Regions from separate parts of the Homo sapiens genome. Here all the other regions are reported to be linked to region 1. The links are microRNA targets in miRTarBase. Many come from high-throughput screens and were not tested one by one. Region 1 holds a microRNA gene; each other region holds the end of a gene's coding sequence. Distances are from middle to middle.
The links. Region 1 holds the annotated microRNA hsa-miR-155-5p (UUAAUGCUAAUCGUGAUAGGGGUU, at 2,077-2,100, shown strand). A microRNA usually pairs through its seed, bases 2 to 8, with sites in the 3' UTR of a target mRNA and lowers its output. Matches are read on the target gene's strand: a 7mer-m8 pairs with bases 2 to 8, a 7mer-A1 pairs with bases 2 to 7 and ends in A, and an 8mer does both.

Region 1 (4,166 bases):
ACCCTCTGCCCAGTGCCTTGGCTAATAGACTGGCCTTTGTTGTCTATGACCACTAATTCCCACTCAGGCATATAGCAATTCTGTTGTTGGTTGCTTAGCCCAGTCAAAAACACTGGAAGTGGACATAGACTCCACACTGATGAATGAATGACCTTCTAGTCATTCTAATGTCCTTAAAAGTCTACTATTTTTAAATTGTAGAATATATATATATATATATATATTTTTTTTTTTTTCTGGGATATTTCTCCTTTCTTCTGTTCATTAATGTTTTTCATCTATCATTGTGTTTTAAATATGACCTAAGGTTCTATAGTATATTTAGACAAACTTCTCATTTCTCTGCAGTGTTCGGAATTCATCATGCCTGTATGACAAGGTTGTGTTTGAGAACAAAAGGGGACCTGTGTGACATGTTTTATTTCAATATACATTTAGAGTTTGAACAAATAAAAAAAGCTATTAGAATTTTTAATATATATAACACATTATCAAAAACACTGTCACTTTTCTGAGTGCTCTAATCAGGCAATTCGTATGTATATTTAAAAAGAGGGAAAAAGCTAATTAGTATACTAAATATATTTATTTTAATACCTGTGCTCATATGTTATCTTTAAAGAACAGGAATAAAATTTATGGGTAGAATAGTATGCCAGCAATTTACCTTCAATACAAATTAAACACATCTTTTAAGAAAAGGGCGAGTTATATTGGCTGGGGTGGCACTAACACTACATTATTAATATGTATTTATTGAGCATTTACTGTGTCCAGGACCCTGTAAGGGGGAAAAAAAGTCCTTGTTTTTACAATCTTTATTGACTGAAATTCTGTAAAATGAATTGAATTCCTGAAGTGACATCATTTAACCCAAATTTTTTCATCATCAACTAATTCATCTCAGAAAACAGTAAAGTTTAAAAAAAAATACTATCAGTAAGAATAATATATTTCCTTGGTTTGGAAATTTCCAAACCACGATATTCTGCCCTGTCAAAATATATTCACTGGGGAATTTTTTACTTCATACGTTTCTTTTGAACTTAGTCACATTTTTATATCTAGCTGGTTTCATTATTAAATAAAAGAAAAGGTGATTCCCCTCTTGTACTGCAGGAGACCACATACTTGAATGATACTCTAACTTCTAGGTTCTGTTATAGTAACACTGAAATCAGAAACCTGTGGGAGAAATGTCACTTTATCTGAGAGAGTAAAATCAGACTCTAAAAGGAAGTAGCAAATTCATCTTGTTCTTTTTTTTAATCAACCCTCTGCCTAAGACAAGTAGTTTGAAACACAGAGGACTCTTTAAGTCATACTTCCTTTATGTAGTCAAAACCAAAGCCACTGGGTAGTGCTTTCCCCAAAGGAATCTCTAAATAGTAGACGGGGACATTTTCAGATAGATTCGTTTGTAGGCAAACCTCCATTGCTTGTATCACATTTCCTGAAAGAATAAAGGTAAAACTTCAACTATGTATTACAGAAAGAAAAATTCAGCCTGAACCCTACCCTTATAAAACAGGTTAATTGGGTTTTAATTTTCATAAATCATAAAGGACTATTTTGAACATTTGGGCCTTTAATTGTCTAGCTCCTAGATGAAGTACAAATCAGAAAAAAAAAAAACTGTACTGTGTCAGAATGCAAGCTTTCCTCTTTGCATTTTGGCATTTGAAAACTCCGAAGAGCGGTTTTTGTTTTTTATTTAAAGAAGATGATACATATGTGTACCCGATTCAAAACTAGAGAATAGAATTTAAAACATAATTTTCAAAGTCTTCAAATATGCCTAAAGGTAACAATGTCATCTTTTAATTGCCAATTTCTCTACCACTTTCAAAAAATTACTTCCAAGGATTTAATGAGCTCCTTCCTTTCAACAGAAAATGGACTATTTTCCTTTCAGATTTACTATATGCTGTCACTCCAGCTTTATAACCGCATGTGCATACACAAACATTTCTTTCTCTCTTGCAGGTGGCACAAACCAGGAAGGGGAAATCTGTGGTTTAAATTCTTTATGCCTCATCCTCTGAGTGCTGAAGGCTTGCTGTAGGCTGTATGCTGTTAATGCTAATCGTGATAGGGGTTTTTGCCTCCAACTGACTCCTACATATTAGCATTAACAGTGTATGATGCCTGTTACTAGCATTCACATGGAACAAATTGCTGCCGTGGGAGGATGACAAAGAAGCATGAGTCACCCTGCTGGATAAACTTAGACTTCAGGCTTTATCATTTTTCAATCTGTTAATCATAATCTGGTCACTGGGATGTTCAACCTTAAACTAAGTTTTGAAAGTAAGGTTATTTAAAAGATTTATCAGTAGTATCCTAAATGCAAACATTTTCATTTAAATGTCAAGCCCATGTTTGTTTTTATCATTAACAGAAAATATATTCATGTCATTCTTAATTGCAGGTTTTGGCTTGTTCATTATAATGTTCATAAACACCTTTGATTCAACTGTTAGAAATGTGGGCTAAACACAAATTTCTATAATATTTTTGTAGTTAAAAATTAGAAGGACTACTAACCTCCAGTTATATCATGGATTGTCTGGCAACGTTTTTTAAAAGATTTAGAAACTGGTACTTTCCCCCAGGTAACGATTTTCTGTTCAGGCAACTTCAGTTTAAAATTAATACTTTTATTTGACTCTTAAAGGGAAACTGAAAGGCTATGAAGCTGAATTTTTTTAATGAAATATTTTTAACAGTTAGCAGGGTAAATAACATCTGACAGCTAATGAGATATTTTTTCCATACAAGATAAAAAGATTTAATCAAAAAATTTCATATTTGAAATGAAGTCCCAAATCTAGGTTCAAGTTCAATAGCTTAGCCACATAATACGGTTGTGCGAGCAGAGAATCTACCTTTCCACTTCTAAGCCTGTTTCTTCCTCCATATGGGGATAATACTTTACAAGGTTGTTGTGAGGCTTAGATGAGATAGAGAATTATTCCATAAGATAATCAAGTGCTACATTAATGTTATAGTTAGATTAATCCAAGAACTAGTCACCCTACTTTATTAGAGAAGAGAAAAGCTAATGATTTGATTTGCAGAATATTTAAGGTTTGGATTTCTATGCAGTTTTTCTAAATAACCATCACTTACAAATATGTAACCAAACGTAATTGTTAGTATATTTAATGTAAACTTGTTTTAACAACTCTTCTCAACATTTTGTCCAGGTTATTCACTGTAACCAAATAAATCTCATGAGTCTTTAGTTGATTTAAAATAATTTTTATGGCCCATTTTCTTTTGCAAAGTACAAATTATAATTCCAGAAGCTATCTGCCAAAAAAAGACAATGGAAGAAAATTATGAGGACACTAAAGGGAACATTCCTGACTCCTAGGACACAGTATTCTCATGTAAGAATACCCATTTGGCTTTGCCCCACTTTCTGTTCAAGTTGTATGTGCTGCCAAGACAAATTTCTTCTCCTCACTTTCTGTTCAAGTTGTATGTGCTGCCAACACAAATTTCTTCTCCTAACACCTGGAATGAGCTTGTGGCTCCACGGAGCTCCCATGTAGGTAGAACACATTCAAGAGTGTTTCTTCAGGCCAGGCACAGTGGCTCACGCCTATAATTCCAACACTTTGGGAGGCCAAGGCGGGTGGTTCACTTGAGGTCAGGAGTTCTACACTACCCTGGCCAACATAGTGAAACCTCGTCTCTACTAAAAATACAAAAATTAGCTAGGCATGGTGGTGCGTGCCTGTAATCCCAGATACTCAGGAGGCTGGGGCAGAAGAATCACTTGAACCCAGGAGGTGGAGTTCACAGTGAACGAAGATCGTGCCACTGCCCTCCAGCCTGGGTGACAGAGTGAGACTCCATCTCAAAAAAAAAAAAAAGTGTCTGTTCAATTCATTTTATCTGCCACTGTATATCTACAAGAGGACTCCTTGCTTTGAGTCCCAGTTCTTCAAAATCCTGCTTGCTGCCTAAAGACACAAAGTCATAGAACATTAGGACTGGAATAAACTATTGTAGTATAACCTTCCTGCTGTTACAATAAAAAGCTATAAACATTACAAAGGCACTTAAAGAAAAGCTGTGCTGGGAAATGCCTTATTTGAAGAGCATTTGGGTACACTCACATGAAGCTTTGGAAAGTTACTTAATCTTCCTCTAAG
Region 2 (4,166 bases), not on the chromosome of region 1:
TCCTGCCAAGGGGTGCTGGGGACCTTAGGGTTGTTTGTGGCAAACATCACCTCTGTGGCATCTCTTGTGTCTGGGAGGTCTGAAGAATGGTGTTTTGGGGGAATCAGGTGAGTTTTTTTTAAATAGGACTTGAAAAAGCATCTGAAGGGCCCCAGATAACTTTGAGGTTCATAGAGTGGGATTATAGGGATCGCAAATATTTTAAGGGGTTACAAGGATATGTAGGGGTTCTAGGACCACTTTGGGGATTTCCAGTCTATTTAGGGGGACACTTTTAGGATACCGAGGCATTTTGGAGGGTCCCATCCTAGACTTCTCTGGTTATTAGGTATGTAGGTCCAGATGTTACAGGTTCCAAATGGGACTGCAAGGCACCTAAATGGTTAGGGGCTTGGGGCATCTTGGCAGGATTTGGGGGTGATCCAGGCTCAGACTCACACGTTCCCCAGTGAGATTTCGAGGTTGTCCAGGCTCCGGAAGATGTCACTGTACCTCTTCCTGCCCTCAGGACCTGGGGGGAGTCCTAGGGGAGGGGAGTGTAATACATGGGCTAACCACTGCCTCCCTCCACCCACGGCACCTCAACCAGTCTCATTTGGAGGGGGTGGAAGAGAAAGGGAAGAGTGAGAGAGAGAAAGAGAGGGCTGGGGGGGGCTTGGTTGGGGCCAACTCGAGGCAGGCAGATGGACTCACACACCACCAGAGACCAGAGACAGCTGCTCGGGGAACAGAGACACCCACTCCCTGGGTCTGCCTGCACCCAGAAGCAAACCAACAAAACAGATGCCCCAGATGCAACCAGGCTGTCCCGAGAAGAAAGCCGGTCTGACAATGGAACCACGGGCTAGACAGATGGAAATACACAAGGGACAGCCAGGCAGAGCCTGGGGCAGAAACACACATGGAGAGACTGAAGCCGTGAGGGACATAAAGACCGAATGACACTCCACATACACAACACAGACACAAAGACGGCCGGAAACACCAAGTCGGACCCCGCCACATTTCTACTGCTGCCCCCCTGCCCCCTCTCCTAAGGGGCCTAGACCAGCACTGCCGACTCCCCAGGGCTACAGAGGGGCCCTGTGGGGATCCTACCGCGTTGCCCTCTCCCTCAGCAGTCGTGGCACCCTGCCCCCATCACAAAAATCAGAAGCAGAAGCAGTCACTTCCCCTTCCTGGGCCCCCTCCCCCAGGCGTCTGGGGTGAGGGATCAAAAGGGGGAGGGGGAGTGAAGGGCTGGGGTCCTGAACCCATCCGGGCACAGGGCTCCCCACAATGGAGGATCCCTGGGTCCTTCCCATTCAGGAACTCCTCTCCTGGCTCTCAGGACGGAGCGGGACAAGTGTGTGCCCTCAATGTAGGAAGCAGGGGATGGTCGGGGGAGGCCCCTCCCGGATCCCCGACCCCCTACCCGGCTCTGCTGCGTCCATATCTGGGCCCGGGGATCGCTCTGCAGGGACCGGGATGGGGATGGGGTCGCGCGCCGGCGGGGCCGAGCCCCGATTTCCTGCCGCCGCAGCCGCCGCCGCCGCCTCGGTTCCGCGTCGCCCTGCCCAGCGGAGGCCACGCCCCCGCATCAGACCACGCCCCCGTAGCCCGGAAGCCTTGATAGTGCCCTTCTCTACCTGAGCCGCTTGAAACTGGGTCGGGCCAGGGCCCCCTGAGCGACCACTCGAGGCTGCAGTGCCCCTGACCTGGGCATCCTAAGACTTCATCTGGGCCATAGGTTCCCTCTCAGATCTTTGTGCTACCCCAAATCCCACGGAGCCCCAGCCCCCTCCTCCCTGAATGGTTGCAGAGTCCACCTGTCCCGGGGGGCCTCTCCCAGGAGCTCCCACAACCCGCGACCCTGGTGATCCCCTTGCCCAGGTTGTCTCTCGGAGCCCTGAAACCACCTGGGCCTCGCTGGAGCCATGGCGCCCCCTGGTGGAGGCCTGATATTCTGTCCGATTCCAACCAAAATTCTAATACTCGGGCTGGAGAACCCCTGGCCTGGGGGACGCCCCTTCCGTGACCCTCAAAGCTGGATCAGGCTCAAGGCCCCAATTACAGCACACCAGGGAGCAGCCCTTTTAGGTAGGGAGTGGAGGTTTGTCCAAAAGCACCAGCTCTGGGGTTGCCACAAGCCGCCTGTTATAAAAATGCTCCCACCCCCAGCACAGTGGAATTTTGGGGCTGGAAATAGACTTTAAAGTATGTTTATAACTTTGTGTCCAAAGGCTTTGGCTGTTAAGGAGGCAAGGATTCTCTGACTGGCTCCGTGCTGCCTACTCTGCAGTTCTTGAGTTGTGATGAGTGAGTCCATTGAAAGGAATAACACTATCAACCTAAGAGCCAAGCCAGGTTTCCAGGTCACATCCTGGCTGATGCTCAGCCAGAGCTCCCTGACTGTGACATGAGATGGTAGAGCAGCGCAGGCCCCCAAAGAGCATGACAGAGTCAGTACTTGTTTGTTTTTCTTTTGAGTTGGAGTCTCGCTCTGTTGCCCAGGCTGGAGTGCAGTGGCGTTATCTCGGCTCACTGCAAGCTCCACCTCCTGGGTTCACGCCATTCTCCTGCCTCAGCCTCCCGAGTAACTGGGACTACAGGCACTCGCCACCATGCCTGGCTAATTTTTTGTATTTTTAGTAGAGATGGGGTTTCACTGTGTTAGCCAGGATGGTCTCGATCTCCTGACCTTGTGATGGGCCCGCCTTGGCCTCCCAAAGTGCTGGGATTACAGGCTTGAGCCACCGGACAGAGTCAATACTTGTAATGATGCAGATCATATTCCTCAAGTCTCAGACACCACCCGAGAGAAAGGCATGCTGTTATGTATTATGGGAAAGAAAAAAATATCACACATCCTAAGGCTTCTCTCAGCACCTGAGTTGTTAAAATGTGAAAGAGACCTCAGAAATATGGGGGTGCTTGTTAAACTAGAAAATATGCACTGAATTCTCTGGGCAGGGACAAGTCCATGTTCAAGTGCTGAAAGTGCCAGAGGGTTTCACCAACATCACACGCCTGTGGGGAGGGTGCTGGGACCTTCCTCAGTGACCCTCTGTCCCCGAGCCCCCAGCAAACACCGTGTGGCACAGACGAGGTGGAGGCAGGGCTTTTTAAAATCTCAGATGCTGCTTTATTTACCAAAGGTGCTGGCTTGGGGCTGGTTCTGCTGGCCAAGCCAGCGGATGGCTGTGGGGGTCCCAGCTCAGTCTTCCAAGGGCGAGACTGTACAGCCTTGCTGTGGGGGGTTGGGGGCAGGGTTCCCTCCCGGGGCCCTGTTGGGGTTCCCGCCCAGCGGCAGCCAGGGTGGGCAGTGGGTACCAGCACTGCCATCTCAGGAAGGCACTTTCAGCTTCGGGGTCCCCAGGAAGAACTGCAGGACGCGGTCGGCCAGGAGCGCCAGGCAGAAGTCCAGGAGCAGGACCTGGGCAATGACCAGCTTGAACTGTCGGGGCAGGGAGGGATGGTGAGCTGGAGACCTGCAGCCCAGCTCAGGGTCACTGCCATAGGAGGGACCCATCAAGCTGAGCCCCAGGGTCACCTCCACAGGGCCACTGACCTCCACAGGGATGTCCACGAGGCCAAACTGGCTGTTGAAGTCGGGCGAGGAGCCGAGGAGCAGGCCAATGATGGCCAGGAGTGAAACTGCCAGACTCCACACCAGGGGCTTGTTCTCGGGCAGGCTCTCCATGAAGGGCGGGCCCTGTGGGGATGAGGGACAGATGGCTTCATGGGGTGGGGCTGGGTGGGCAGACAGTGAATGTTTGGGCAGGGCCCAGGCCTTACTTTGTAATTGATGGCGAAGGTGGCCATCTGCATGGCCATGGCCATGATGTAGACGGTGCTGTTGACCAGGCTTGGCTCAAACTCCTTGTACAAGTCCACGAACTGCTCCTGCCTGCAAGGACACATGGGAGTCAGGGCCCCCTCTCCTGCTCCGGCTCACACACACTGTGTGGCTTCCTGCTGCCCTGGCACAGAGCTAGGGCTCTGCCTGGCCTAGTGCCCCTCCCTGGACACCCTGGACAACCCCCAGCCTCTCCTGCTGAAGTCTGTGGAGTCATCCTCCTGCTATTCTCAGCTGCAGGGACATCACCTCCTCCAAGGCAGCACTTACTTCTCGGGGCTCCGGGCCTGGGCCTCACGGTACAGGTAGACAAGGCTCAGGAAGTGCA
Region 3 (4,000 bases), not on the chromosome of region 1:
ACATCACTTGGCGTGCCAGGCATACCCACTCCCTCTCTGGGCCTCCTCTGGCCTCCCTGCCTCCGCCATCCTTTTCCTCCCACCATTCAGTGCTCCTGTCTCCACTGTGGCCAGGTTCTGTGAGTCTGTGCCATCTTAGCCACCACTCTGAAGGGTGGTCTCTGCCTGTCTGCCCCTCAGCCCCTAGAGCCGCTCCTATGTTCCCCTCTCCCCACCTTGACCTCACTGTCCTAAAGACAGGCAGGGACCAGGCTGCCTCCACAGCCACCCTATCCTTGGCACAGCCAGGACTCTCAAGGCTTTATTGGAGCTTGGTGCCAGCTCCTGCCCATAGGGCAGCCCCGTGCCACATCTCACCAAGCCCCAGCTGCTGTTCTCTTGTCTGATTTCCTCCAACCTCCCGCAGACCAGTTCAAGGAGCTGATCCTCACACTGTGCGATCTCATCCGCCGAGGCCAGCTCACAGCCCCTGCCTGCTCCCAGGTCCCGCTGCAGGACTACCAGTCTGCCTTGGAAGCCTCCATGAAGCCCTTCATATCTTCAAAGCAGATTCTCACCATGTGATCATCCCAAAAGAGCTGGAGTGACATGGGAGGGGAGGCGGATCTGAGGGGCTGGGTGCAGGCCCCTCAGTTGGGGCTCCCACCTTCCCCAGACTACTGTTCTCCTCACTGCCTCTTCCTATTAGGAGGATGGTGAAGCCAGCCACGGTTTTCCCCAGGGCCAGCCTTAAGGTATCTAATAAAGTCTGAACTCTCCCTTCCAAAAAGTAGAAGTCATCCCTGTCGAGAAGGACCAACACTGTGCACTGGTCAGCTCACAGCACCAAGAGGCCCCCTTCCTGCTTTTCTGTCATGTGTTCCCCCAGTAATCATTTTCTGACCACCCTGAAAGCAAAGCCTGGGTGGGTACTGGCAGTGCAAAGGCCAGTAGGCCACCATCCCTGGCCCCAAGCTGCACAAGCCCACAGACGAGGGTCCTGTAGAACAAACGCTTTGATGTGCTTCTCAGGTAGCCTGCGGCCCAGTCCAGGGCTTGGGGAGGATCAGCTGCATGGAAGAGTGAATGCCAGGCTGAGGTCATCAGGGCCCTGAGGAACTTGGACGTGGGGTCTTCACTCTCATGGAACTGCCCTTCTAACTGGAGACATAGACAATATACCAGTGGTTCTCAACCAGAGGCAATTTTACCCCCAGGAGACATTTGACAATGTCTGGGGATATTTCTGGCTATCACAGCTTATGAAGGAGGTTGCTACTGGCATCTAGCAGGCAGAGTGAGTGCTGCTGTTAAACCCACCACAGGACACAGAACAGTCTACTGCAACAAAGAATTACCCAAGGCCTGGCGCGGTGGCTCACACCTGTAATCCCAGCACTTTGGGAAGCCAAGGCAAGCGGATCACTTGAGCCCAGGAGTTCAAGGTCAACCTAGGTAACGTGGTGAAACACCATCTCTACAAAAAATACAAACATTAGCCAGGTATGGTGCTGTGCACCTGTAGTCCCAGCTACTCGGGAGGTTGAGGTGGGAGGATCACCTGAGCCTGGGAGGTCTAGACTGCAGTGAGCCATGATCATGCCACTGCATTCCAGCCTAGGCAACAGAGCAAGACCCTATATCAAAAAAAAAAAAAAAATCTAGCCCCAAATGTTCAATGTTCATGAGGTCGTTGATAAACCGTGCATTAAACAATCTCACAGTAATTACCATAGTGACTAATGCTGTAAAGAAGATATGTGGGGTGCTGTAAGAGCAGAATAAAGATCTTGCCCTAGGCCCCAGGGACAGGGGTATGCTTCCTTGAGGTGAAGTTTGAAGGTGGGCTCTCACAAATGAGTGAGCTTTATTCAGGCCGAGAGAAGAGCTTGACGTGACTTTTTGGTATTTGCTTCACGATTCATTTGCTCAAAGCAAAGAACAGAGGCTTCAGGGTGTCTCCCTTATCACCTGGCCCTCTGTACCCTGCACTCAGGAGCCTCATTCAGGACGTATTTATTGAGTGCCTAGTGTGTGCCCAAAGCTAAGGATACCAATGAAAGAAGTGCTGCTGGCCCTCAGGTTGCTTAGCCTAGTGCAAGATTGACCAGTATAGTATAATGATGAGGTCACTGACATGGAGGTGTTCAGAGGGCCTTGAGAGGACACACAGGGGCCCCAGTTCTGCCCGAGGGCATCAAGGAAGGATTCCTAGAGGAAGTGTCTCCCACAGCCAGTCTTGAAAACCGAGCAGGAAACTGCGTACCAAGCAAAGCCAACAGCACATGAGAGTTTAGAGGCCTGAGAGCCTGGCACTCAGGGAACTGCAGTCAAGTGTAGCTGCTGCCTTAGACGTGGGGGAAATGTGGGAACTGAGGTGGGAGACATGGGTGAGGTACAGATCACAAAGGACCATGATGTCAGGGCTTACCCTGAAGCCCTAGGGAGGCACCAAGGGATTTTAGGCAGTGGAGCAATATGGAAAAAACTGGCTCGGAATGTTTGTTTTTTTTTTTGAGACGAAGTCTCACACTGTTGCCCTTGCTGGTGTGCAGTGGGCGATCTTGGCTCGCTGCAGCCTCAACCTCCTGGGTTCAAGCGATTCTCCTTCCTCAGCCTCCCGAGTGGCTGGGACTACAGGTGTATGCCACCACACCTGGCTAATTTTTGTATTTTTAGTAGAGATGGGGTTTCACTATGTTGGCCAGGCTGGTCTTGAACTCCTGACCTCGTGATCCACCCACCTCGGCCTCCCAAAGTGCTGGGTTTACAGGCGTAAGCCACCACACCCGGCCAGAAGGTTTAATTGCATGCCAGTTTGAACATGGACTCCCAGCATAATCATCTTTTCTTTGGAAGCATCTTTTATGTCCGCTGGAAAAAAGGACTCAGCTTCAGCCTGGGGCTGGGAAAGGTCTGCATTGCCCTCTGGGGAATATTTGCCACCTTCTGGGCTCAAGATCAGCCCCAACTCTTTCCTGGTCCCTGTCCTCTAGGTTAGTGGGACAAGTGATTGTACAGATGATCAGTGCAGGCAAGTGAAAAAAGCCTTAGAAGGAGGGAAGGCTGCCAGAGGCCACAGGAGTAAAATTAAGATTAGGTTCTTTAGGCCAGGTGAGGTGTCTCACACCTATAATTAGACAGGCGTGCTGGTACATGCCTGTAGTCCCAGCTACTCAGGAGGCTGAGGCAGGACAGTCACTTGAACCTGGGAGGCGGAGGTTGCAGTGAGCTGAGATCACGCCACTGCACTTCAGCCTGGGCAAGAGAGAGAGACTCTGTCTCAAAAAAAAAAATAGGATTCTTCAAGGGGAATCCATAAGGTTGGGGTTTAGGGAGAGTGGTGAGCCTGAGTCCTGGTGAAGGAGCAGGCCCCTGGTGCCCACTCTAAGAGCAGGCATACAGGAATGTTTGTAACACCACGCTTCAAGATCTGGAGGAACGTGCAGAATGCCTGAGAACAGTGAAGGCAATGATTCCTTGTACCTTTAGGGGTCTGGAGGTGACATTTGGGCTGGTCTTCAAAGGATGATTATAATTTATTCAGGGAAGGGTGACAAGCATTACAGACGAAGAGAGCAGATTAGGCAGTTACAGAGACAGGGTATTTATGTTAGAACTGTCTCATTTTCTCCATTCTCTTCCTGAGAATTAAAACCTACAACTTTTAGGTGGGTACATGGCAGGCCGGAATAAACACTGTTTCTCTGCATCCCTTGCAGCTAACAAGATCTGCCCCCGCAAGTGATGTAAGCAGAGGTGTTAGGCGTCAGTTTCTTAGGAACCTCTTTTTTTTTTTTTTTTTTTTATTTGGAGAGATGATGGAGTCTTGCTCTGTCACCTACGTTGGAGTGCAGTGGTGCAATCTCGGCTCACTGCAATTTCCACCTCCCAGGTCCAAGTGATTCTCCTGCCTCAGCCTCCCGAGTAGCTGGGATTACCTGCCACCACGCCCAGCTAGTTTTTGTTATTTTTAATAGAAACAGCGTTTCACCATGTTGGACAGGCTGGTCTCGAACTC
Region 4 (4,166 bases), not on the chromosome of region 1:
GGAACCAAAATCACTTTCCCCAAGGAAGGAGACCAGACCTCCAACAACATTCCAGCTGATATCGTCTTTGTTTTAAAGGACAAGCCCCACAATATCTTTAAGAGAGATGGCTCTGATGTCATTTATCCTGCCAGGATCAGCCTCCGGGAGGTAAGGTGCCAGGTGGGGCGGTGTCTGTAGAGGGCGATGGCTGCTTTTTGAAGCAGTTTAGTATTTGCTGAACCAATGTGTTGGGGTGTGTGGTGCGTGCCAGGCTTGGGGCACAACAGTGAACAGGACTGACCAGGGCGCTGTTGTGGAGCTTTCGTGGTGGGGACGTGTAGATTTGGGGGCCAGGTCTTAGCTGCAGAGGCCTGATGGGTCTTATCTATGGCAGACGGCCTCTGGGCAAGAGCTGAGCCTCTTGAGCCAGCTTCCATCTAATGCTGTCCTTTTGCTTTTCAAGGCTCTGTGTGGCTGCACAGTGAACGTCCCCACTCTGGACGGCAGGACGATACCCGTCGTATTCAAAGATGTTATCAGGCCTGGCATGCGGCGAAAAGTTCCTGGAGAAGGCCTCCCCCTCCCCAAAACACCCGAGAAACGTGGGGACCTCATTATTGAGTTTGAAGTGATCTTCCCCGAAAGGATTCCCCAGACATCAAGAACCGTACTTGAGCAGGTTCTTCCAATATAGCTATCTGAGCTCCCCAAGGACTGACCAGGGACCTTTCCAGAGCTCAAGGATTTCTGGACCTTTCTACCAGTTGTGGACCATGAGAGGGTGGGAGGGCCCAGGGAGGGCTTTCGTACTGCTGAATGTTTTCCAGAGCATATATTACAATCTTTCAAAGTCGCACACTAGACTTCAGTGGTTTTTCGAGCTATAGGGCATCAGGTGGTGGGAACAGCAGGAAAAGGCATTCCAGTCTGCCCCACTGGGTCTGGCAGCCCTCCCGGGATGGGCCCACATCCACCTCCAGTCCCTGGCCAGGGGTGAGAGGCAGACCAGCAGATGGACTTGATCCCTCTGTGTCTTTTTGCTTCTGGCTGGTAGATAATGTCAACCTGCAGTCTTGATTCCCAGACCCTGTACACTCCTCCTTTTCTGTTGTGTGATCAGTTTGTGCTTTATTCTGTATTTGTCTCCCATGTCTTGCTCTTCTCCTGGAGAATTCTGTCTTCTCTTTGGCCATCTCAAATTGAGAACCTAAACTATTCCTGCAGAACTGCCTGGTTGGCGTCCACAAGCAATACCTCTCGTTCCAGCAGGACCAAGGGAGCCAGCCTCCAGTGAGTGACTCCAGCAAGTGCAGCCACCTCTCCCTTGATGGTCTGGGAGCCTGGCCTCAGCAAGGGGCCTTCCTGACCTCTGGCTCCAGTGAAGCTGAATGTCCTCACTTTGTGGGTCACACTCTTTACATTTCTGTAAGGCAATCTTGGCACACGTGGGGCTTACCAGTGGCCCAGGTAATTTTTTGTTTCATGGACTATGGACTCTTTCAAAGGGATCTGATCCTTTTGAATTTTGCACAGCCCTAGATACAATCCCTTTTGATAAAAGGGTCTTTGCTTCTGATTACAGGAGCACTGTGGAACGTCTGTAAATATGTTTTTATAATTCCATGTATAGTTGGTGTACACTCAAAACCTGTCCCCGGCAGCCAGTGCTCTCTGTATAGGGCCATAATGGAATTCTGAAGAAATCTTGGGGAGGGAAGGGGAGTTGGAACAAATGTCTGTTCCCTGGAGGCCAGTCCAGTGCTCAGACCTTTAGACTCATTGTAAGTTGCCACTGCCAACATGAGACCAAAGTGTGTGACTAGTCAATGAAGTGCGACAGCATTAAAGACTGATGCTAAACCTCAGGGGAGCGGTCCTGTGACTCTGTTTGAGGGTTCTGCTGGTTTTGGGGGTGGAGTGGGGAGCTGGGCATCCTTCCAAATTCAATCAAGGTGAGAGGGTGGGATGGGCAGGAGGCAAGTGCCCTGCAAGGGAAACGTAAGTCTCCCTTCCTCAGCCATAAGTGGGTTGGAGAACTTCTACCCAGACTCGGGGTCCAAAAAACCAGAGACCCAAGCACAGTGGCCTTGGGGATCATTTTTTGATGAAGGTTGGAGTCAAAGTAGCGGTGGGGAGAGGCAGGGTCTGGCTCCTAATTCTGCCTTTCTTCAGGGTCCCTGGCTTTTTCAGCAGACCTTGGCTCTGGGGCCAAGGGGCCAACCCAGGGTCTGGCCTCTTAATTCCTTATCACTCCTTCCCTGCTAGAACGGGCTGGGCGTCCTGAAGGCTGGCCAAACCGGAGCTCAAGGTCCTGCCCAGGACTAGCCCCACTGTAGAGAGGACCCATTTCCTGCCTTGGCTTTATTTGCAGGCTACTAAAGCTGCTTTTACTTTGTAACTTTCTTTAAAATAACTGGTTTTATTATAAAGTAATTGCTCAGGCTTAAAACAATGTATTGCTGCTTTGTTACAAAATGTTCTAAAGTGGAAACACTGTATATAGACCAGGAGCAGTGGCTCAGGCATGTAATCCCAGTACTTTGGGAGGCCAAGGTGGGTAGATCCCTTGAGCTCAGGAGTTTGAGACCAGCCTAGACAACATTGTGAAACCCCATCTCTACAAAATTTAAAAATTCAGCCGGAGAATGCAGCGTACACCTGTAGGGCCAGCTATTTATGGGACTGAGGCAGGAGGATCAATTGAGCCCAAGAGGTGGAGGCAGTAGCAAGCTGTGTTTGTGCCACTGCACTCCAACCTGGGTGACAAAGTGAGACCCTGTATCAAGAAAAAAAAACTAAAACACAGTATCCAAAAGTCAAACTGGGCCAGACGCAGTGGCTCACACCTGTAATCCCAGCACTTTGGGAGGCCAAGGCGGGCAGATCACCTGAGGTCAGGAGTTTCAGACCAGCCTGGCCAACATGGTGAAACCCCGTCTCTATTAAAACAAAAAGCCAGGCGTGGTGCACGTACCTGTAGTCCCATTTACTCAGGAGGCTGAGGCAGGAGAATCACTTGAACATGGGAGGCAGAGGTTGCAGTGAGCAAAGATCCCACCACTGCACTCCAGCCTGGGTGACAGAGCGAGGCTGTGTCTCACAAAAAAGTGTCAAGCTAAGAGTTGCTTTCCCTTCCCACTGAAACAGTTGAAGCGCTGAAAACAGGCTAGGGGCAGCCCTGCCAGTCCAGGAGAACTTTCTGCAATGACTAGAACGTTCTATATACCGTTTACTTAAACATCTTACAAATTCAATAAAATTAGAATCAGTTCCTCAGTCCTGCCACACTTCAGTTGCTTAGCAGCCACACATGTATGTGGCCAGTGGCAACTGTTGGACAAGTCAAGTCTAGAGGGCTTTTCCCTAAAGACATTGCAGGGGTGACTTTGAAGAGCAGCCACATTAAGCCAGGAGACGCCAGCCCAATCAGGAGGTGACCCTGGAATATCAAGAGCTAAGAGATGTTTACCAAAGTATCCCACACGCCAAGGTCACATTTATTGCGGAACTGACCTGACCTCATTGGTGACACAAATCCCAGGGCTGCCATCCCCACCCCCAAGTCTCCATTATACACCAAGTCCCTGTGAACTTCATACTGAAGTGTCACAAACATAAAGGTGCACGAAGCCTTGAGGTATATACAATTCTGGGAACTTCACAAAAAACACGGCCAAGCAACCTACCAGGTAGCAGTGTGAGGAGTGGGACGGTGGGATTTTGAGGGGAAAATCTTGGTGGTAAAAGGGCCCAAAGACCTTTCACACATGCATTTTTTTGCTCAAAGGCCACTACTTGGCTTGTCTATCTTGGCCGGATATCTGGTGCACCCACATGCAAACTTTTCCCAAAGTCTTGGGCTTGTTTTTTTTTTTTTTTTTTTTCAGACAGAGTCTCGCTCTATCCAAGCTGGAGCGCGGTGGTGCAATCTCGGCTCACTGCGATCTCCACCTTCCAGGTTCAAGCAATTCTCAGCCTTCCAAGTAGCTGAGATTACAGGCGTGCGCCACCACGCCAGGCTAATTTTTGTATTCTTAGTATAGAGATGGGGTTTCACCATGTTGGCCAGGCTGGCCTCAAACTCCTGACCTCAAGTGATCGGCGCCCCCTCGGCCTCACAAAGTGCTGGGATTACAGGTGTGAGCCACCGCACTCAGGATTTTTTTTTTAATTTCTTTTTTTGA
Region 5 (4,166 bases), not on the chromosome of region 1:
AAGGCCACCTCATCCTTGCCCCCAGGGGTGATACCTCGGGGGTTCTCCAGGCTGAGGCACCTGCAGGGCATAGGAAGGATGCAGGGCTTATGGTCTAGAGGAGGCAGAGGGAACTCTGGGCCCTGATGGTCTCCCCCTCCCTGCACACCCAGGGAGCAGAGGGAAGGTTCCCTGCAGGTGGGCAATGAGGCCCCTGTGACCGGCTCCTCCCCGCTGGGCGCCACGCAGCTGGACACTGATGGAGCCCTGTGGCTTGGTGAGTGTTTTGGGGAGACTAGAGAGGGATGCCCAAGGGTCTCATGATATCCGAGGGACAGACTCCACCCCCCAGCGCCCACCCTTGAGTCAGGGTGCATGTGAGCCGGCGGGCTGGGCTCTCTTCTCCCGCTGTAGCCCCTGCAGTTCCCAGTGCTGTGGGGCCGGGAGGCGGGTGCCCAGGTGTGGGCCCCCTGCTGGTCACCTGCTCGTTGGGGTGCCCATCAGCATCACTGAGTCACAGCCGGGTGACTCCCACTGTCTGTGCTGCAGGGGGCCTGCCGGAGCTGCCCGTGGGCCCAGCACTGCCCAAGGCCTACGGCACAGGCTTTGTGGGCTGCTTGCGGGACGTGGTGGTGGGCCGGCACCCGCTGCACCTGCTGGAGGACGCCGTCACCAAGCCAGAGCTGCGGCCCTGCCCCACCCCATGAGCTGGCACCAGAGCCCCGCGCCCGCTGTAATTATTTTCTATTTTTGTAAACTTGTTGCTTTTTGATATGATTTTCTTGCCTGAGTGTTGGCCGGAGGGACTGCTGGCCCGGCCTCCCTTCCGTCCAGGCAGCCGTGCTGCAGACAGACCTAGTGCCGAGGGATGGACAGGCGAGGTGGCAGCGTGGAGGGCTCGGCGTGGATGGCAGCCTCAGGACACACACCCCTGCCTCAAGGTGCTGAGCCCCCGCCTTGCACTGCGCCTGCCCCACGGTGTCCCCGCCGGGAAGCAGCCCCGGCTCCTGAATCACCCTCGCTCCGTCAGGCGGGACTCGTGTCCCAGAGAGGAAGGGGCTGCTGAGGTCTGATGGGGCCCTTCCTCCGGGTGACCCCACAGGGCCTTTCCAAGCCCCCATTTGAGCTGCTCCTTCCTGTGTGTGCTCTGGGCCCTGCCTCGGCCTCCTGCGCCAATACTGTGACTTCCAAACAATGTTACTGCTGGGCACAGCTCTGCGTTGCTCCCGTGCTGCCTGCGCCAGCCCCAGGCTGCTGAGGAGCAGAGGCCAGACCAGGGCCGATCTGGGTGTCCTGACCCTCAGCTGGCCCTGCCCAGCCACCCTGGACGTGACCGTATCCCTCTGCCACACCCCAGGCCCTGCGAGGGGCTATCGAGAGGAGCTCACTGTGGGATGGGGTTGACCTCTGCCGCCTGCCTGGGTATCTGGGCCTGGCCATGGCTGTGTTCTTCATGTGTTGATTTTATTTGACCCCTGGAGTGGTGGGTCTCATCTTTCCCATCTCGCCTGAGAGCGGCTGAGGGCTGCCTCACTGCAAATCCTCCCCACAGCGTCAGTGAAAGTCGTCCTTGTCTCAGAATGACCAGGGGCCAGCCAGTGTCTGACCAAGGTCAAGGGGCAGGTGCAGAGGTGGCAGGGATGGCTCCGAAGCCAGAAATGCCTTAAACTGCAACGTCCCGTCCCTTCCCCACCCCCATCCCATCCCCACCCCCAGCCCCAGCCCAGTCCTCCTAGGAGCAGGACCCGATGAAGCGGGCGGCGGTGGGGCTGGGTGCCGTGTTACTAACTCTAGTATGTTTCTGTGTCAATCGCTGTGAAATAAAGTCTGAAAACTTTAAAAGCATTGCTTTTGTCCATCCTCACCAGCGCGCTGGCCCGTTGGCTTCTTGCTCCGCTTTGTGGTGGGAGCACGGACTTGGAGCTCCCTTGGGTGGCCCTGGATGGAGCCAGGCCCTGCACAGGGATCCTTGTGGCTGATGAGGCCCTGAGTGGGGAGCACACACTGCTGAGCACTGTGGGAGGCGGGGCCGTGGAGGCAGGAGGCTCTCTGGCGTGCACGTGTGGGTGCGTGTACGTGTGGGGGTGTGTGTGTGTGGGTGCGGGTACGTGTGGGTGCATGTGCCTGCTCTCTGGCGTGCACGTGTGGGTGCGGGTACGTGTGGGTGCGGGTACGTGTGGGTGCATGTGCGTGTGGGTGCGTGTGCCTGCTCTCTGGCGTGCACGTGTGGGTACGTGTGGGTGTGGGTGCGTGTGCCTGCTCTCCGGCGTGCATGTATGGGTGCATGTACGTGTGTGTGGGTGCGTGTGCCTGCTCTCCGGCGTGTATGTGTGGGTGCGTGTGCGTGTGGGTGCGTGTGCTTGCTCTCCGGCGTGCATGTGTGGGTGCATGTACGTGTGTGGGTGCGTGTGCCTGCTCTCCGGCGTGTATGTGTGGGTGTGTGTGCCTGCTCTCTGGCGTGCACGTGTGTGTGTGTGTGTGTGTGCCTGCACACATAATTGGCCCACATCTGTGTCAGAGCACAGGGTTGGGAGGAGGCTGCACCCAGGACTGGAAGGGTCTGGGGGGAGCCAGGGTGCGTGGGGCTGTTGGGCAGCCTTTTCACTGGCCCAGGTGTGCAGAACCAACCCTTGGCACTGCTGGAAGCCCCTAACTAGAAACCCCTGGGGTAGCTGGGCTCCTGGACTCCCTCTAACCTGCTTCCTAAATTAGTGTGTGGGTGACAGCACTGCAGAAGCTGAGCCTCAGGGAAGGGCGCGGTGGCTCACACCTGTCATCCCAGCACTTTGGGAGGCTGAGGCTGGAGGATCGCTTGAGGCCAAGAGTGGGAGATCAGCTTGGGCAACATAGTGAGACCCCATCTCTGCAAAAAAATTTCTTTAATTAGCCAGGCGTGGTGGTACACACCTGTAGCTCCAGCTACTCCGGAGGCTGAGGCAGGAGGATCACTTGAATCCAGGAGGTTGAGGCAGCAGCAAGCTGTGATTGCACCACTGCACTCCAGCCTGGGTGACAGAGCGAGAACCTGTCTAAAAAACAGAGCTGGCACCCAGCACCGGCAGATGTGAGCCCTGGGGAGAAGCAGGGGAAGAAGGGGTAGGGTGTGTGGCCAGCTGGGTGGCCCTTCGCAAACTGCTGTCTCTTATGAAAAATAACTAAGTGTAGTTTTCTATTTTGTATTAATGATTTTAAAAAAAAAGCCAGGTGCGCTGGCTCACACCTGTAATCCTAGCACTTTGGGAGGCCGAGGCGGGTGGATCACCTGAGGTCAGGAGTTCAAGACGAGCCTGGCCAACATGGTGAAACCCTGTCTCTCCTAAAATACAAAAACTGGCTGGGCATGATGGTGGGTGCCTGTAGTCCCAGCTACTCCGGAGGCTGAGACGGGAGAATTGCTTGAACCCAGGAGACGGTGGTTGCAGTGAGCCGAGATCACGCCATTGCACTCCAGCCTCAGTGGCTGAAGGAGACTCCGTCTCAAAAAAAAAAAGAAAAAAGAAAACCACAAAAACATCGAAATAAAATAACACCAATGGCTGGGCACATTGGCTCATGCCTATAATCCCAGCACTTTGGGAGGCTGAGGCAGGCGGATCACCTGAGGTCAGGAGTTCAACACCAGACTGGCCAACATGGTGAAACCCTGTATCTACTAAAAACACAAACATCTGGGCGTGGTGGCAGGTATCTGTAATCCCAGTTACTCGGGAGGCTGAGGCACGAGAATCGCTTGAACCCGGGAGGCGGAGGTTGCAGTGAGCCGCGATTGCACCACTGCACTCCAGCGTGGGCGACAGAGCGCGACTCCGTTTCAAAAAAAAAATGAAAAGATAATACCCACAAGCTCCACACCCAGGAGGTCCCATGCGTCTGAGTGTTTGCTTTCTGGGCTTTTCATCACCTGGTCCTCTGGGGATATGCTGACCGACCCTGTGTGCCTGGCAGGTGTCAGGCACTGGGGGTCGGGGAGGAGAGAGTCCAGGAGCGGTGGCCACACACAGGTCGCTGACGGTGGGGGGCCAGGGTGGGGGCAGACTAACTTTGGTTTTCAGGAAAGGTCCAGAGAAAACACGCCCAAACCCAGACCCGAAGCATGAGCAGGGGGAGGGCAGGTGAGGAGGCCAGAGGCGGGGCATGTGGTGTGGGTCCATTGGACGGTGTGCAGGGCCCTGTGGCTTGACAAAGGG
Region 6 (4,166 bases), not on the chromosome of region 1:
ACCCACTTACTCACAAGGGCTGACCATGATGGCCCTGCTCTGCATGAGGACTCACAGGACAGCCAGGGCACTGATGCCTGCAGGACTGCATGGCCGACAAGATGATGCACATTTTAATATTCAAAATGTAAACAAAGTATCCACAAATAGTCCAAAAAAGCCAAAGAATGGCTTTACTTAAAAATTTTTAAATGCCCTTAAAAGTGACTTTTTGCATAATGCTTTCTTAAAAAAAGAACTCTCACAAAAACATTTTTACCAAACATGCCTAGATCACTTCAGAACTGAAATCCTCAGATGAAACAGGTGAACACTTCTGTGACCTGCTACATCTCAGAAGCTTCTCATAGGAAGCTTTGAGTTTACCCAACAGCATCTGTCTGGGGCCTGTGAGCAGAGTACCTCAGAGCCTGAGGCACTGAGATCTTCAGGCTGTCCTTGGAGCTCTGGGTAGTTTGCAAAATGAGAAAGAGGAACTATCAGTAGGGATAAAGACACAGAACAAGGAAATCCATAACCCTGTCTCAAGCCTCCTCAGAACCAGGAAAATACTAAAGATCCTGAAGAGACTAAGATGATAGGAATGATCCCAAACATTTAGAATCTGAAAGGCAACTAAAATGAGGAGAGATGAATATTACGGTACTATAGTACTACATGTCTACTACAGTATCCATTAGTCCTGGGTGTCTCCAAAAATCAAGAAAGGGTTGGGGTTTCCCTTTCTACTGACCAGGTTCAGCTCAAGTTCTGTATGCTCCTGGGGCTTTTACCCCATACACCAAAACATCAACTGTTTTTATATATGTACATATGTGTACACATGCACATACACTCCTCCAAAATAAGTGAGAGTCTATGGTGGTTTAAAAAGAGAGAGAGAGAGAGGAGAGAGAGAGAGGCAGGCAGGCACTGGGCAAGAGTCAAAGTTTTTCCTATTCATCTTTGCCAGTCTATCAAATCTGCTGCTTCAGGTCAGGTCATGAACAAAAGAAAAGGGAAAGATGCCACTGGAGATTATAAAAGTCTGAAGAGAAGACAGTCTGGAAAGTCCTTGACAGTTCACTGCGCACCTCCCCTGGACACTGCTCAGCTATGTAAATAACCCAGGAACACCCAATTCTGGGAGTCTGAAAAGGCTGGCACAAACTCCTTGGCATGGTTGAATGACAGATATTCTGTAGAAGATGTTTATTTAGGCAGGTAAATTAAATGATAAAAAAAGTAATTATAAAAAGGCAGAAAGACTTTCCTCTGCTCTTGAAAATTTTTTTTCCCCACAGTATTAGTGGGTTTTGTCCCATCTTTGTTGTTATTTAATGCAGTGAGTGAACATTAAACACAGTGGAGGGGAGAAGAGGGAACAGTCCAAAACTTTGGTCCTGCTTGTACCTCTTAGTGTGTGGGATGTCATCATCGTAAGGGGTTACCACAAGTGGATGCCACTCTCTTAACTTCCAGGCAAACCCTCTCCCCACCCTGCCATAAGTTCCTGCCCTTCCCCATCATATTGGTGGTGGAACTGCTTCAAGAAGGCAGGGTATTCTACATGGAAGAGCTCTGGAAATCCATAACCCTGTCTCAAGCCTCCTCACATTGGTTCATACCACCTAACAAAACACTTTACAACACACAAATATCCAGGAATCACAAAACTGAGTGGATGAGATACTTGAACATTCAAGGAGACTACTGAGCAACAGCACAGGGTACACATAATCACTGCACCATAGAGACGCTTTTAGCAAGTGGTTTCTGTCCAACCTGCTTCCTGGCAGGGATGTCAGACCCAGCCTTGGCTTCCACACAACTTCACAGCTCCTCTTAAGACCCAGTGGCCCCAGTCTACCTTTTCTGCATCTTTTGGGTCGCCCTGCCATCTGCCCCCACCAAACTCTGGCCTCTGACATCATGCTGACAGTCTGTGCATTTGTATTTTCCTCAGTGCTGTGATAAGCCAAAAACCTGTCTCCAGTCTATACTCAGTCAATCCTCAGTAACGTGGACATCAACGAAAGCAAATCTGCAAGCCTCTTCAGTTTCAATGAGATGCAGAGGTGTTTCATGCTAGACTAAATCTGTTTTCTGTAAGAAGCTACAAGAGGCTTGTTTATGACAGGCGCTGCTGCGTTAAGGATCTCCACAACAGTAGCAAAACGACAGCATCCTAAATGGAGTCACTGTGGGCACTTGCCCCTGGCTGAGGCCTCCCCTGTGGCCTTCAGCCTCTACTAGGAGCTTCCACTCTGGGCAACTCACATATACTTCCTGGCTGTGGTTGAGATACTGGCAAACAATGTTCTGGGATTTCAGTCTCACAGAGAAATCAGCTTTCAGTCACGCTGTGACCTAATGGGAGCCTTTAGGGGTGTCTCTGAGGAAAAAGTTACTAATGCATAATTTGGCAGGAGCTGGTGATTGGAAGTCTCCATTTAAACAACTACAGCCACCATCAACATATTGTACAGATTCCTATCAACACCCAACACTTTCATTTCTGGTGTCTGTGTTTTCCAGTTGCAACTCTACTCCTTCTTAAAAAGAATAAATCAAAATTACCCTACAACATGAACAAGACACTAAGACAGTGACAATATTATGTACATAAATACTGTGTACAAACTTTAGAGAAATGACAAACCTTCCAGGAAAAGGAAAAAAAAGTGTTAACAGTGATAATACCAAAAATAAAACGTTGCATTCAATGGATGTTAAACATATGTAACAATTCAAATATAATCTATGAAATTTAAAAAAATAGGCAGCATGGGGACAACAGCATGGGGAAGGAAAATAAACTGGAAGAAAATATGGCCATTAAACTCAGAAGGCCCAAAGAATTATTCAAGTAATGGAAGGGTTAAAACCCTACATACATATTCATTTTACAAGAACACACTGACTTTCGATTGCTGCTTTTCAAACATGTCACTGTTGTTTTCAGTTGGGAGGACACTGCAGAGCACATTTTTCTGGCAGGGAGAGCCAAGATGCCCATCTGTGTGGATCCCACCAACCCAGCAGTTTCTGGGCAGCAGCCTCTCCACCCCCAACTTTATGTCTTCCTCCTCTTATCATGCTTTCCTCTACAGAAGACCACTTGGATTTCATTTGGGGTCCTGTTTTAATTTCAAAAATAATTTTCTTGGGAAAAAAACTATATGATAAATTTGCAGAGCCGGCCATTATCATGTCTTACTGTAACGATACACTCTGGAACACCGGAAGACCCTCTTTTAAAGCAAAGCGGAACCTGCCTCCTTCAGGAACTCTAAAGGGCTGCGGCTGGATGAAGGCTGAGAGCCCTCTGACTTCTGGCTGACCTTTAGCCCATTCGATGCCTCAGGTCTGGAAACCAAACCATCATCACAAAGGCAGGGGAACATCTCCAATCCCCAGCTTTATCTCCACCCCTCCGAATCTGCTTCCTTCCCTCAATTAAGAAACCATGCCTTTTCTCAGAGGGCAAAATGAGAAGCAGGTGGCAGCTGACTGAAAAACAGCAATTTGCCTTTGATAAAGGTGTTCTCTGAAAATGACTTTTTTGAGGTTTGATTTTTTTAAATAAAAAATGATAAACGGTCTTGCCATCCAGATCAATCTCTCTTTCCCCTTACATATACACACACATACACACTGAAAAACACCCAAACCCTGCATGCACCAGAAACAGTAAAATGACCAAAATATTATAAAATTAACCAATAAAGTGCATGTTCCTTACATATTACACCTGCCCCTTTTACAAACATTTCTTCTAGAAAGTCACATGTGTAGGCTCAGAATCACATGGTATTATAGAAGGGGTTGGTTGTCCGTTTTTTGTCATTTGCCTTTTTCAGTCTCCTAAGGGGGTGAGTTCTGCCGTGTTGCTGACGGGGTGCCACGGCCAGCCCTGGAGCTGGGCATGCACACTGCAGTCCCTGGGTCTGTAGCACGGGAAGGCCTCCTTCAGAACTAGTCAATTCAAGTCCTGCCCTGGGGAGCAAATACTGCTGACTAGAACCAAATTCTTTGGCATACTGCACAAGGGGCCTCTCCACTGGCTTGCTCTGCACAATACACTCTGTTGTTGTGAGTTGTTCTACAAAAGACTTGGTGGGCTCTGGGTTGTGGGGGGCACCTGGGTTTTCTAGGGACTCTTGGTCCTCCATCGCGTGCATGCC
Region 7 (4,166 bases), 11 Mb from region 1:
AAGCATGGTGGTTCATGCCTGTAATCCCAGCACTCTGAGGTGGGCAGAATGCTTGATTGAGCCCAGGAGTTTGAGACCAGCCTGGGCAATATAGTGAAACCCCATTGCTACAAATAATAATAATAAAAATTAACCGGGCATGGTGGTGTGGGCCTGTGCTTCCAGCTACTCAGGAGGCTGAGGTGGGAGAATTGCGTGAACCCTGGAGAGCAGTGGTGCCATCGCAGCTCACTGCAGCCTTGACCTCCTGGGCTCAGGTGATCCCCCACCTCACCCTCTTGAGAAGCTGAGACTACAGGTGTCGTCACCAAGCCCGGCTAATATTTTGTGTTTTTAGTAGAGTCAGGGTTTCACCATGTTGGCCAGGCTGGTCTCGAACTCCTGGGCTCCAGCGATCTCCCTCCTCGGCTTCACAAATGCTGGGAATACAGGCATGGGCAAGTGCACCTGACTCATAAAAGTGAATTATTAAAGTAAATTGAGTTCTCTAGGGGAGGTTTTGCTTTTCCTTTTGTTTAATTGTATATTATTCTACGGAGATTTGATTTTGATATTTTACTTTTTAAGGTCTACATGAATCTTAACTTGTAATGCTCATCTAATAAGTTACATATTTGTATTTGCAGCCTCAAACTCCGATCTCTTCGAGTTAACGTAGGACAACTGCTGGCTATGATTGTGCCTGATCTTGATCTTCAGCAAGTGAATTACGATGTTGATGTAGTTGATGAGATTTTAGGACAAGTTGTTGAACAAATGAGTGAAATCAGTAGTACTTAAAGTATATGTTATGTAAGATAAAATATTTGCTCAATTCTTTTGGTTGTACAGCTTTCAAAATATAATTAATTTTGTTTTATAGATATGATAGGCAACAGACTGAAAACCATAATCTTTACTGTATTCTATGCATTCAAATGTGGTCACAAATATTGTGGACACATTATCTTATGTTTTGAAATACCTGTGAATTGTTGGCATTGAGCAGCTGAAGCTAACTCATGACTCTGTTTTGAATGTAAATATTTGTAATTAAGCCTGCACATATTTTTTTATTGCCCTAGAGTACTCAAGTGTTTTTCACCAAGAGCTTTTCAGGTTGCCCCTAAGCTTTGTGCAATTTTTTCTGGTTCCCCAAAGTGTATTTTTCTCTAAGTCGAGGGCTATGCCATAATACAAATGGAAATGTTACCTTTGATTTTCTTATAAAGGAGTTTAAATAGGATTTTTAAATAATGTAGTAACACTCCTGATACAACTCTGGTTATAAGTGAATTGAGCATTAATGTTTCTTTTGTATAAATTCCTGTCCTGAAATATTTTATTCATGAAAATAAGGTAAGCAAAAACCAACTCCATTTTGCCAGGATTTTGTTGTGCTGAGATTGCCAATCACGGTTAAACACAAAGTGTTTTTATAGAATGAAGAAACAGTCTTTAACAGAAAAAAGGTATTGAAATATTAAATGGCCACCAAGTTTACTTTGAAGCCCATTTTTGGCTGTTTAGTCAGCATGAAGTGGGCATGATAATTTTTTAATATTTCTTTTTGTGAAATTTCCTGTACAGCCTTTTGTAGGATTACTACAGGTTAATGTGAGTTGAGGAAGACAGTCTTTCTCAAACAATACTACATACCTTTTATTATATTACAAACCTAAGTGTTTTATATCCTAGAGTCAAGGAACAAATTTCCTTAGGATTATAGTATTACATGCCATAAAATACTATGCTTTATTGGTCCCATGTTTTGTGCAATTTTAAAGAGATGGCTTTCTATTAAGTATAAACTATGTATATATAAGAACCATATTTTCCACAACTAAAATGTGCATTATTTTTTCCAAAGTTTTATCATTGCTATTTATTTTTACCTTTGTTTTTGAACATTCAATCCGTTCATTTTGTATGTATGCTTAATACGTGTCGGTCATATACAGTATTGAATTTTTACTGTATAGTAATTCTGGAAAGAGCAAATAAATGAAGATTGTTTTTATTTGCCTGATAAAGTAATTGAAAGTGTATTTTTGGTATGAAGCTGGTTTTCTGTCACAATTGTAATTTCCCAAATTTTAAAATATCTTATAATAAAATAAAAATATATGATGGCTAACTGTTCAAATGCTACTTTTAAAGACTTAATATTAACCTCAAATTATTTTAAAACTAAAAATGTATTCATTAGACCCTCAACTTGAGCTCATTTTAACTACTTTAATTGCAGTTTATTTTTTGAAGACTGTTTCCATTAAGACTGAGGCTGAGCTCCTCTTTCCTCAGAGCATGTATATTCTGTTTTCAAAAGCTTTTTCTCAGCCTGGCGCAGTGGCTCACGCCTGTAATCCCAGCACTTTGGGAGGCCGAGGCGGGCGGATCACCTGAGGTCGGGAGTTCAAGACCAGCCTGACTAACATGGAGAAATGCCGTCTCTGCTAAAAATACAAAATTAGCCGGGTGTGGTGATGCATGCCTGTAATCCCAGCTACTCAGGAGGCTGAGGCAGGAGAATCACTTGAACCTGGGAGGTGGAGGTTGCAGCGAGCCGAGATCACACCATTGCACTCCAGCCTGGGCAACAAGAGCGAAACTCCGTCTCAAAAAAAAAGGACTTTTCTTTGTATAAATCATTTACTCTAGAGAAACCTTGCCTAAATAATAGCAGCTATGTAAATCATATGTAAGTTTTGTGAATATCTAACTCATGCAGTGGTTCTTTTTGGAATTTGCTATTTTTCCCTTCCTTTTGGCCAGCTTCTCTATGTATTCTTGCAAAAATATTTCCTGTAGCTGTCTGGCTTGATGGGAAAATTAATCATGGGATTAGTAAGAGAAACTTGCTTGCTAAATTGATTCTTTGGAAGCACTTAGATACTTTTTGCTCTTTATGAAGATATTGAAGTATTGCCAAGATATGAGACTTCGAAAATGTGGCTCACAGTTGCAGACAGAACAACTGTTGTTTAACAGAACAACGTGGGCTTTCATGATGTATGTACCTTTCTCTTTCTTTTGTTGCATGTGGGGGACAGTATTGCTTCAACTAATGTTTATTACTTTAAAACACGAAAGGTATGAGGAAGTAAACCAAAACAGTCCACAGTCTTCAAACAGGACCTAGGGTGGCAAAATCAGTGAAAGCTGAGTGAGCACACAGAGCAGGAGGGCATGGCACGTCCCTGTGTGCTTCCTTTGGGCCTCAAATTCTTCATGTGGCAGGTCCAGTTGGTGACGCTGCCTGTGATCTCAGACGCTTGATTCTTGCTGTCACATGAGACGTCTTAAACTTGGGTCATACATCATTGAGGAATCATTTAAGTTCTCACCTCTGGCTGCGTAGTAGAATTACTTGGGGAGTTTTTTAAACTCCCAAAGTCAGGCTGCACCTCACGTTAATTAAGTCAGCGTCCTTGGGGTTAGACCCAGATAACAGTATTTTTCAAGGCCTCCCGGGTTAATTCCAGTGCACCATCAGAGCCAAGCACTGTTGAGTTGTGTCTTCTGTTGAGTATTTATAAATGTTGAACTTGAGTGGTTCACGAAACAAACGGGATCAGCATATCCACTTTCTCACTGGGGCAAGCAGGGGGAGGGAGGGGAAGCAGAGCGGTGCCCCGGTAGAGATGTAAATGAACAGTGAAAAGACTTTCTCCACGGCCTCTAAAGGTAACCACTATTGGCTTTTGTGTGCATACATGCACACATTCATGTGTATGTATTTTATTTACATTAAATTGCGTATATTTGTGTCGATATTTACACAGTGGGATTATACCATATAATTGATAACTAAACATTTCCATATCATTCTTTCAAAAAGCTTAAGTAACATTTCATCATAGGAATATGCTCCTAATGGTTACTTACTTACTTACTTTTCGTTAGAAAGAATATACTGGCTGGGCGCAGTGGCTCGTGCCTGTAATCCCAGCACTTTGGGAGGCCAAGGTGGGTGGATCATGAGGTCAGGAGATCGAGACCATCCTGGCCAACATGGTAAAACCCCATCTCTACTAAAAATACAAAAATTAGCTGGGCGTGGTGGTGGGCTCCTGTAATCCCAGCTACTTGGGAGGCTGAGGCAGGAGAATCACTTAACCCCAGGAGGCAGAGGTTGCAGTGAGCCGAGATCACACCACTGCACTCCAGACTGGTGACAGAGCGAG

Region 2: miRTarBase lists ATP13A1 as a target of hsa-miR-155-5p. The part of its 3' UTR that is shown has no 7-base or 8-base seed match.
Region 3: miRTarBase lists MECR as a target of hsa-miR-155-5p. Seed matches in the 3' UTR shown: 7mer-A1 at 1,685-1,691.
Region 4: the mRNA of DNAJB1 is a reported target of hsa-miR-155-5p. Seed matches in the 3' UTR shown: 8mer at 1,821-1,828.
Region 5: miRTarBase lists AGRN as a target of hsa-miR-155-5p. The part of its 3' UTR that is shown has no 7-base or 8-base seed match.
Region 6: the mRNA of SSH2 is a reported target of hsa-miR-155-5p. Seed matches in the 3' UTR shown: 7mer-A1 at 1,317-1,323 and 7mer-m8 at 217-223.
Region 7: the mRNA of MORC3 is a reported target of hsa-miR-155-5p. Seed matches in the 3' UTR shown: 8mer at 1,279-1,286.

The regions. Positions count from the first base shown.
Region 1 is chr21:25,571,907-25,576,072 of GRCh38, forward strand. It overlaps MIR155 (microRNA 155), which reads left to right and starts at 2,074; the gene lies at 2,074-2,138. It overlaps MIR155HG (MIR155 host gene), which reads left to right. Exons shown (of 3, transcript NR_001458.3): 3 at 1,987-3,262. RefSeq lists a silencer at 2,018-2,197 and an enhancer at 3,749-3,898.
Region 2 is chr19:19,642,097-19,646,262 of GRCh38, forward strand. ATP13A1 (ATPase 13A1) reads right to left here. Exons shown (of 26, transcript NM_020410.3): 23 at 4,109-4,166; 24 at 3,778-3,889; 25 at 3,551-3,694; 26 at 3,102-3,436. The coding sequence ends at 3,326. GMIP (GEM interacting protein) reads right to left here and starts at 1,561. Exons shown (of 21, transcript NM_016573.4): 1 at 1,415-1,561; 2 at 439-523. The coding sequence starts at 1,433. RefSeq lists enhancers at 438-1,393, 615-774 and a silencer at 1,405-1,654.
Region 3 is chr1:29,190,586-29,194,585 of GRCh38, reverse strand. It overlaps MECR (mitochondrial trans-2-enoyl-CoA reductase), which reads left to right. Exons shown (of 10, transcript NM_016011.5): 10 at 407-1,929. The coding sequence ends at 564. Among named protein-coding and RNA genes, the nearest start is that of SRSF4, 11 kb to the right of the region's middle.
Region 4 is chr19:14,512,450-14,516,615 of GRCh38, reverse strand. It overlaps DNAJB1 (DnaJ heat shock protein family (Hsp40) member B1), which reads left to right. Exons shown (of 3, transcript NM_006145.3): 2 at 1-150; 3 at 446-1,847. The coding sequence ends at 676. Among named protein-coding and RNA genes, the nearest start is that of DNAJB1, 3.9 kb to the left of the region's middle.
Region 5 is chr1:1,054,296-1,058,461 of GRCh38, forward strand. It overlaps AGRN (agrin), which reads left to right. Exons shown (of 36, transcript NM_198576.4): 35 at 153-256; 36 at 529-1,821. The coding sequence ends at 686. Among named protein-coding and RNA genes, the nearest start is that of RNF223, 18 kb to the right of the region's middle. RefSeq lists a silencer at 140-322.
Region 6 is chr17:29,627,056-29,631,221 of GRCh38, forward strand. SSH2 (slingshot protein phosphatase 2) reads right to left here. Exons shown (of 16, transcript NM_001282129.2): 16 at 1-4,166. The coding sequence ends at 3,786. Among named protein-coding and RNA genes, the nearest start is that of CORO6, 6.2 kb to the left of the region's middle.
Region 7 is chr21:36,374,517-36,378,682 of GRCh38, forward strand. MORC3 (MORC family CW-type zinc finger 3) reads left to right here. Exons shown (of 17, transcript NM_015358.3): 17 at 627-2,116. The coding sequence ends at 780. Among named protein-coding and RNA genes, the nearest start is that of CHAF1B, 8.8 kb to the right of the region's middle.